2 linked regions of the Homo sapiens genome follow. The protein of the gene in region 1 interacts with the protein of each later gene in a pairwise test. Each region holds a gene or a part of one and is shown in the gene's direction. Other genes may lie near its edges. The genes, in order: E2F2 and GNB5.

Region 1 (3,811 bases):
CAGACTGGCTTTGGTAGGGTCTCAAGTGCCTGGGCCTCAGAGGATGGGAGTTTTATTTGCCCTTCAGAAAACAAGATTTCCCCTGAAAGCTCACTTCTCAGGTCACTGATGTTTTCCTATCAAGTACAGCAGTGCTTCACCAGGACTGGCGGTAAACTGAGGCACAGAGGTGGCTGCTAAGTGGCTTCATTGCTTTGGCCCCACATCAGGGAAAGGCTAAAGGAGGAATGATTCTCAAACTCTGCCTCTCTCTCCCCCTTTTCTCCAAGGCCAAAAGGAAGCTGGATCTGGAGGGGATTGGGAGGCCCGTCGTCCCTGAGTTCCCAACCCCCAAGGGGAAGTGCATCAGAGTGGATGGCCTCCCCAGCCCCAAAAGTAAGCAGTGCTGATGGGGCCTCTGGGGTGGGGTGGGGCAGGGGCAGAGGGCAGTGCCCTGCCCAATCACTGGTAGTCATATTTGGATCACTTTCCAGTTTACAAAAGCTTCCTGCGTATTTTATTATTTGATCCTGCCAGGTAGGTAGGCTTGTCTGTCTTTACTAATCAGGCAACTTGAGACTCAGAGAGCTTGAGTGACTTGCCCATAGTCTCAGAGTGGAGTCAGGACTAGAGCCTGGACATGTAAATCTTGCATTACTTCTGTGTTTTTTTTTGTTGTTGTTGTTGTTGTTGTTGTTGTTGTTGTGAGACAGGTCTCGCTCTGTCACCAAATGTGGATTGCAGTGGTGCCATCTTGGCTCCCTGCAACCTCCACCTCTGGGGTTCAAGCAACTCTCTCACCTCAGCCTCCCAGGTAGCTGGGACTACAGGTACATGCCACCATCCCTGCCTAATTTTTGTATTTTTAGTAGAGACACAGTTTCACCATGTTGGCCAGGCTGGTCTTAAACTCCTGACCTCAAATGATCCACCCGCCTCGGCCTCCCAAAGTGGTGGGATTACAGGCGTGAGCCACCATGCCTGGCCAGTCTCGCACTACTTCTACCATACCATGTACTGCTCTCATGATCTAAACTCAATGACCAGTGTTTTATTTGGGAATTTATTATTTTTAAAACGTTTTAATGTTTAGGTCAAGGTAAATTTTTCTAAATCAGAAGAGCAGGGGCTAACCAGGGTCTTTCTCCCACATGCAGACAAGGAGCTGAATAAGTGATTCAAAGGGAAGGGAAGCACAGATTAATCCAGTCTCTGCCACCCCAAAGGTTTTTAAGATCCAGAGGCTGCCCAGGTGGTGCCTTCCTAAAGCTAAGTTGGAGGGGGTTGCTGCCTCTTGATATTTTCAGTCAATATCCTGGATAGGCTGAGCGTGGTGGCTCACACCTATAATCCCAGCACTTTGGGAGGCCAAGGTGGGCAGATAACCTGAGGTCAGGAGTTCCAGACCAGCCTGGCCAACGTGGTGAAACCCCGTCTATACTAAAAATACAAAAATTAGCCGGGTGTGGTGGCGCATGCCTGTAATCCCAGCTACTCAGGAGGCCAAGGCAGGAGAATCACTTGAACCTGGGAGGCAGGTTGCAGTGAGCCAAGATCGCACCACTGCACTCCACTCCAGCCTGGGAGAGAGAGTGAGACTCCATCTCCAAAAAAAAAAAAAAATCCTGGTTAGAGCAGGAGTTAAAGCAACTGTGTTTGGGAGGAACACTAGTTTTGGGGGTCCAGGTAGGATTCTGCTCCGACCTGACAGGTCACTCCTGTGAACCTTAGTTGTTGTGAACCTTAGTTGTCTTGTGTAAAAGAAGACACAGCTAGATCAGGAATGGCAAGAAAGTTTCCTCTACATTTGATTGGTCAAGGCTGCCCAGAGCACTGTCTTGAAGGATCCTGAGGCTCATGATAACTGGTCCTCCTCCAGAGGAACCTAAGACTCTAAAATTCAGGTTCCAGAATTACTGGATTGGCCACTAACTTGCTATATGACTTGGAAGTCACTCGATTACAAAAGTCCCCTCGTGGTTTAAGATGCTGCAGCTGAGATGTGGTCTTGCAACATCAACCTCATTGAGAAAGGGACCTTTCTCATGAACCTCCCCGACTTGATGTTACAGGACCGATTTTTCTCAGATAATCATTGTGATTCACATGGGAAGAAAAAGCAAGTGTGTGTCTATAAAAATGCTCTTAAATCCAGGCTTATCATTTCTACCCTATTCTAATTCCAAACTCCGGACATTTAAGTGGCAGGATAGGGTAATGGTTAAGGAAAACTCTGGAGTCAGACTGCCTGGATTTGAATTCCAGCTTTGCCACTTTCTAGCTGAGTGAGCTGAGCAAATTACTTAAACTGTGCCTCAGTATTCTCATCTATAAAATGGGGATGATTGTACAGCAACCCTTACAGGGTGTTGTAGGGCTTAAATGTGTTCGTACATGGAAAGCACTTAGAACAGTGACAGTAGTTGTGGGTGGTGGTCTGGCAGCCCTAAGCTGTGGTGGAAATGTGCATTTAACCAGGAGTCAGGACACTAGGCTTCCAACACTGCCCATTGGCCGTGAGACCTTAAGCAAGTCACCTTCCCTCTTAGGTATCAGGTTCCCTGTCTGGACAGTGGTGGTGATGGATGCCCTGGCTCACACTGCTTTGTAAACTGGAAAGTGGGTGGTGAAAGGTGGTACTTAATGAGCCTAGGTCAATGGACGAGGGTCCTGGGCGGGCCCTCCCCTCCCTGAGCTGTGACTGGGTCCCTTTCTTCTTCAGCCCCCAAATCCCCCGGGGAGAAGACTCGGTATGACACTTCGCTGGGGCTGCTCACCAAGAAGTTCATTTACCTCCTGAGCGAGTCAGAGGATGGGGTCCTGGACCTGAACTGGGCCGCTGAGGTGCTGGACGTGCAGAAGCGGCGCATCTATGACATCACCAACGTGCTGGAAGGCATCCAGCTCATCCGCAAGAAGGCCAAGAACAACATCCAGTGGGTGTGAGTGCCTGGGCGGCCAGTGGTACCCTCCAATGGGTACTTGTGCTGTGGGCGGAGCCAGAGGCAATAGCCAGTGGGTGTGAGTGGCAGGGGCGGGGCTGAGAGCAACATCCAATGGGCACAAGGGCTGAGGCGGACCAAGAGCAACATCCAATAGGCTTATTGCTGGGGGTAGAGCCAATGTATGGTGAGGAAGAGCGCCGTGTACCTGCTGAAGTAATCGGAGAACGTGATGCGGGGCAGAGTGGAGAATGACATCTGGGAGGTGTAAAGGCCAAAGGGAACCTCAGATTCTTCCTCTTGAGTCAGAGATCCCAATATCCACTTCTTCTAGCTTAGGGCAGTCCCCTGGGAGCTAAGTAGGGGGATCCCGGACTCCTTCCAGATCTGAGATAGGAGTACTCCAGCCTCCTCTCTCCATTTCTACAGGGTTTAAAGAGCTGACCTATAGCCCTTGGCATAAATCCTAAGAGAAACCAGGCAGGGGAGGGAGTCAGGACTGAGGCTACTCCAGTTGGAGGAGGCTGGGGCATAGGGATGAACAGAGTCGAGAGCCCCTCAGAAATGGGGTTCAGGTCTTGACTTGTTTTTTCTCCCAAGCCCAACCCCCAAACCTCTGGTTCCAATCCCTGGTAGCTCCCTGAGAGACAGGCATGACCACTGATTTCCACAACCCAGGGAAGCACCCTCATAGACTATTTTTTGAATGACCTTGTTCTGGAGTTTCACCCACAGACTGACACTGGGGGGCTGCTCTGTTCCCAGAGGCAGGGGAATGTTTGAAGACCCCACCAGACCTGGGAAGCAGCAACAGCTGGGGCAGGAGCTGAAGGAGCTGATGAACACGGAGCAGGCCTTGGACCAGCTCATCCAGAGCTGCTCTCTGAGCT
Region 2 (3,811 bases), on another chromosome or scaffold:
GGCTCTGGAGGCAGACAGCAGGATTGGATCTTGGCTCCGCTGTGTTCTAGCTGGTGATCCTAGACAGCGTTTGAATTTCTGCGTGCTTCATTTTTCTCACCTGCACATGAGGATAGTAAAGTAGTAAATCTGTCCTGCATAAGGTTTTCTGAGGCTTAAATTAGATGATTCATGTACATAGTGTAGTCCCTGGTAAATATCAGTAAGCGTTAACTCTTATTATTTGTTTGTTTGTTTGTTTGTTTTTTGAGACAGGGTCTCACTCTAGTACCCAGGCTGGAGTACAGTGGCACAGTCTGGGCTCACTGAAGCCTCCACCACCCAGGCTCAAGTGATTCTCCTGCCTCAGCCTCCCAAGTAGCTGGTAGGCCTGTAGTGGGTCTGCAAGCACACGCCACCATGCCTGGCTAATTTTTGTATTTTTTGTAGTGATGGGGTCTTGGTGTGTTGCCCTGGCTGATCTTGAACTCCAGAGCTCAAGCAATCCACTTGCCTTTGCCTCCCAAAGTGCTGGGATTATAGGCGTGAGCCACTGCACCCAGCCAATTTTATTATTATTAACACAAAGCTTCATGGATGATGCTGATACATGGCCTAGTTTGGGTACTACTGAACTCATGAACCTCCAGCTTTCTTCAATCCCTGGGATCTAGGTTGATAAAAGAGAAACTCAAGCGGCTGGTATGAGACTATGGTATTAAACTTACAAATTCTCTGCATTCCAGAACAAATGAGTGACAATGAGTTAGGGGTTCTGTTTAATGCATTTATATGAATAAATGTTTGGTCTTTAAACTTTATTTTTACTTATATTATAATGAAGATCAGAAACACAAAATTGAAAAGTATTAGAAATCTACTTTTAACTTTTAAAAACTATTCATTTCTTTGATCAAACAGTATGGTATGAAAATTTCCTAAATTAAAGAGCAAGACTGGGGTAGTTGCTTAAAGAAAATTGTTTGGACCTGGTGTCTCAAAATAAACTGTAAGTTACTGCAAGTGTTATTAGGAAAGCAGTGAGTTGGAACAGCCACTAGTGGGTGTGGGCCAGGAGAGATTGAGGGAATTTGAGCATCCAACAAAATATGAGTACCCAAATTTCAGCCTCGGTTCAGGTTTTGTGTGTCCATAAGCTACTTTGCTAGCTTAAGTCATCTTGTTGGATGTATGCAGGCCTCCTGAGGGAAGTCAAGGCTGGAGGGGGTCCTGTGGACAGCCAGTGGGTGCAACACCAGGGCGGGAGCAGATTCCCCTCCTTGTAATTTGTTCCTTCCCTGCAAAAAAAGAAAAAAAAATGAGTTTTTTTTTTTTTTTTTTTGAGACCAAGTCTCACTCTGTTGCCCAGGCTGGAGTACAGTGGCGTGATCTCAGCTCACTGCAACCTCCGCCTCCCAGGTTCAAGCGATTCTAGTGCCTCAGCCTTCCAAGTAGCTGGGACAACAGGCGTGAGCCACTACAACTGGCTAATTTTTGTATTTTTAGTAGAGTTGGAGTTTTACCATGTTGGCCAGGCTGGTCTTGAACTCCTGACCTTGGGTGATCCGCCCACCTCAGCCTCCCAAAGTGCTGGGAAAAAAATGAGATTCTTTATGTTCAAGGCCTAACATATAAGAGAGAGGGGAAGAAAAAGGGAAAGGGGGCAAAGGGTGAGGAGGAGAGATCCCATCAGCAGCTGGAAATTGAAGGTGTGGTGTGGTCAGTGGTTGCATTGCATGCTAGCGGTGCATAAGGCCTGATTCCTCTTTTCTTTCCTCAGCCATCAGTAATCATCCGCAAAGGGCTCTCTTGTGGACACTTATGCTGCAAGAGCCACTTCCTCCACGGTCTTATCACCTCACCCAGGCCCTGTGGAGCAGCCAGAAGGCAGGGAGAGCTTCTCCCTTGCAGGTCCCCTCCATTGCTGTCAGTACCCAGCTGGCTCCAGGGCTCTGTGATGCCGCCAGCTGGGCCTATGAGGGCCCCGAACCCTGAGTCCTCACTGCCTTTCTCCCAATCCCAGGAAGGTATGCTCAGCCAGAGCCCAGGCCTCATACACACTGGCAGTGACAAAAAGTAAAATTCCAGCCCTGTCCCCATGTCTTTCCCTGGGCACCCCTGTGTGCCTTTACTCTATGGCTGACCTTTGTACTTGTAAGCTATCCAGAGGCTCTTTGGGCCTCTGCCAGAGTTTCCTAAAACATACGTTTGCTTTTCTCATTCTCCTGCCCAGAAGCTTCCAGAGTGCTCTCTTGGCTTCAGACTGAGTCCCCACCTGTGAACGGGCTCACCTTTCATTTAGTGCAGACATAGGCCCCCCTGGAGTTTGTCTCTCCCCTTCCCTTCTTTCACCTGGCCAGCTCTCACTCTTCCTTGAAGACCAACTCAGATATCACCACACTGGGTTTGGGACCCTCCTGTGTGCACACCTGGATCCCAGCACTTCTCATGCTGTTGTCATTGATCCTTGTCTACTGGTGATGTCAACTCCCCAAGCGAACATCAGAAATACTTGCAACCAAGCAAAGCTAAGGTTATCTGACCTGCCACAGTAAGGGAGAACCTCCACTTGGCAGAATCTTAGTAGGTTCTGAAAATGGAGGAATTAGGGAAGGGTACTTAGAGGATTTCAGGGTCCAGGCTTGGTGATTTTAAGGTGGGTCTTGCAAGGCCGTTTTAGCTTTGGATTGGTGAGCCCAGCAAGCGAACAGTCTTTGAGTCTGGATGAGCAAGCTGTTAATCTTGGTAAGTTGTCTAATCGATTCACAGTCTTTTCTCCCAGGAGCAGGTATTTTCTGCAGCAAGCAGTTAAGTTATTTTTACTTGGTCTCAATATGGTTTAACATAGTAACAGGAAAGTTGGCCTGGTCCCAGAATTGTTTAACACAGGGATGGGGAATTATGTTGGTTTCATTCTTACTGGCAATCCTATTAAACTGAGTTCTGGGAGAACAGAAACTGAGACACAATCTTTCTGCAAACCCTCATGCATTAGCAGAGTGCCTGGCAGACACTGTCAGCACACAGCAGATGTTTCTTGAACCTGTGTATGCGTGAATATCCTCTGGCACCCGTCAGTGGTCCTGGGAAGCCTCTGGGCAGCACTGTGCTCGGGAAAAGCAGCAACAGAGAATGTCCAACAAGATGCTGCCTAGACCCCTGCTGCTCCCAGTGTGCCCCGTGACCAGCCTCAGCATTCCCTGGGAGCCTGTGAGAAGTGTAGACGCTCAGGCCCCACCCCAGACTCTATTAGCAAGCAGCCCAGTGATGTGTATGCATCAGTATCCAAGAAGCACTTTAAGTTTTTGGCCTGCACAGCAGTGGGAGGCATCGAAGGTTTTAAACACTCAGTAGAGACTCACGGAACACTTCCTACGAGCCAGGCATGTGTAGAGCCCTGTAGGTACCACCATGAGGCCGCCAGGATTTCAGCTCTGCTGGGAGGCAGGCATATAAACACAACTCAAGGACTGTGAGGGTAGGAAATGCACTCTTTCCTTCTTTGTATAGAAGAGAGATTTCTGTGCATGAACCCAGATACAGCAGGTAGGGTGTGTGTGTGTGTGTGTGTGTGTGTGTGTGTGTGTGTGTGTGTGTGTGTGTGTGTGTGTTTTCTGCTTTTCCCTGTGTGTGTGTGTGTGTGTGTGTGTGTGTGTGTGTTCTGCTTTTCCCTGCAAAACGTTAAGCCTCTGATTGACTGCCCCCGGCATAAGCAATAACCACAACCATATAAACACAACTCAAGGACTGTGAGGGTGTAGGAAATGCACTCTTTCCTTCTTTGTATAGGAGAGAGATTTCTGTGCATGAACCCAGATACAGCAGGTAGGGT

Evidence for each region.
Region 2: the proteins of E2F2 (region 1) and GNB5 interact in a two-hybrid assay, tested with the Homo sapiens proteins (one large-scale study listed by BioGRID and IntAct).

Annotation. Positions count from the first base shown.
Region 1 is NC_000001.11:23,520,947-23,524,757, reverse strand, and holds part of E2F2 (transcription factor E2F2), read left to right. Parts: exon of another isoform or gene 1-169; intron 170-269; coding exon 270-375; intron 376-2,701; coding exon 2,702-2,921; exon of another isoform or gene 2,922-3,172; coding exon of another isoform or gene 3,173-3,186; intron 3,187-3,686; coding exon 3,687-3,811. UniProt on the Homo sapiens protein: Transcription activator that binds DNA cooperatively with DP proteins through the E2 recognition site, 5'-TTTC[CG]CGC-3' found in the promoter region of a number of genes whose products are involved in cell cycle regulation or in DNA replication.
Region 2 is NC_000015.10:52,135,893-52,139,703, reverse strand, and holds part of GNB5 (guanine nucleotide-binding protein subunit beta-5), read left to right. Parts: intron 1-3,811. UniProt on the Homo sapiens protein: Enhances GTPase-activating protein (GAP) activity of regulator of G protein signaling (RGS) proteins, such as RGS7 and RGS9, hence involved in the termination of the signaling initiated by the G protein coupled receptors (GPCRs) by accelerating the GTP hydrolysis on the G-alpha subunits, thereby promoting their inactivation.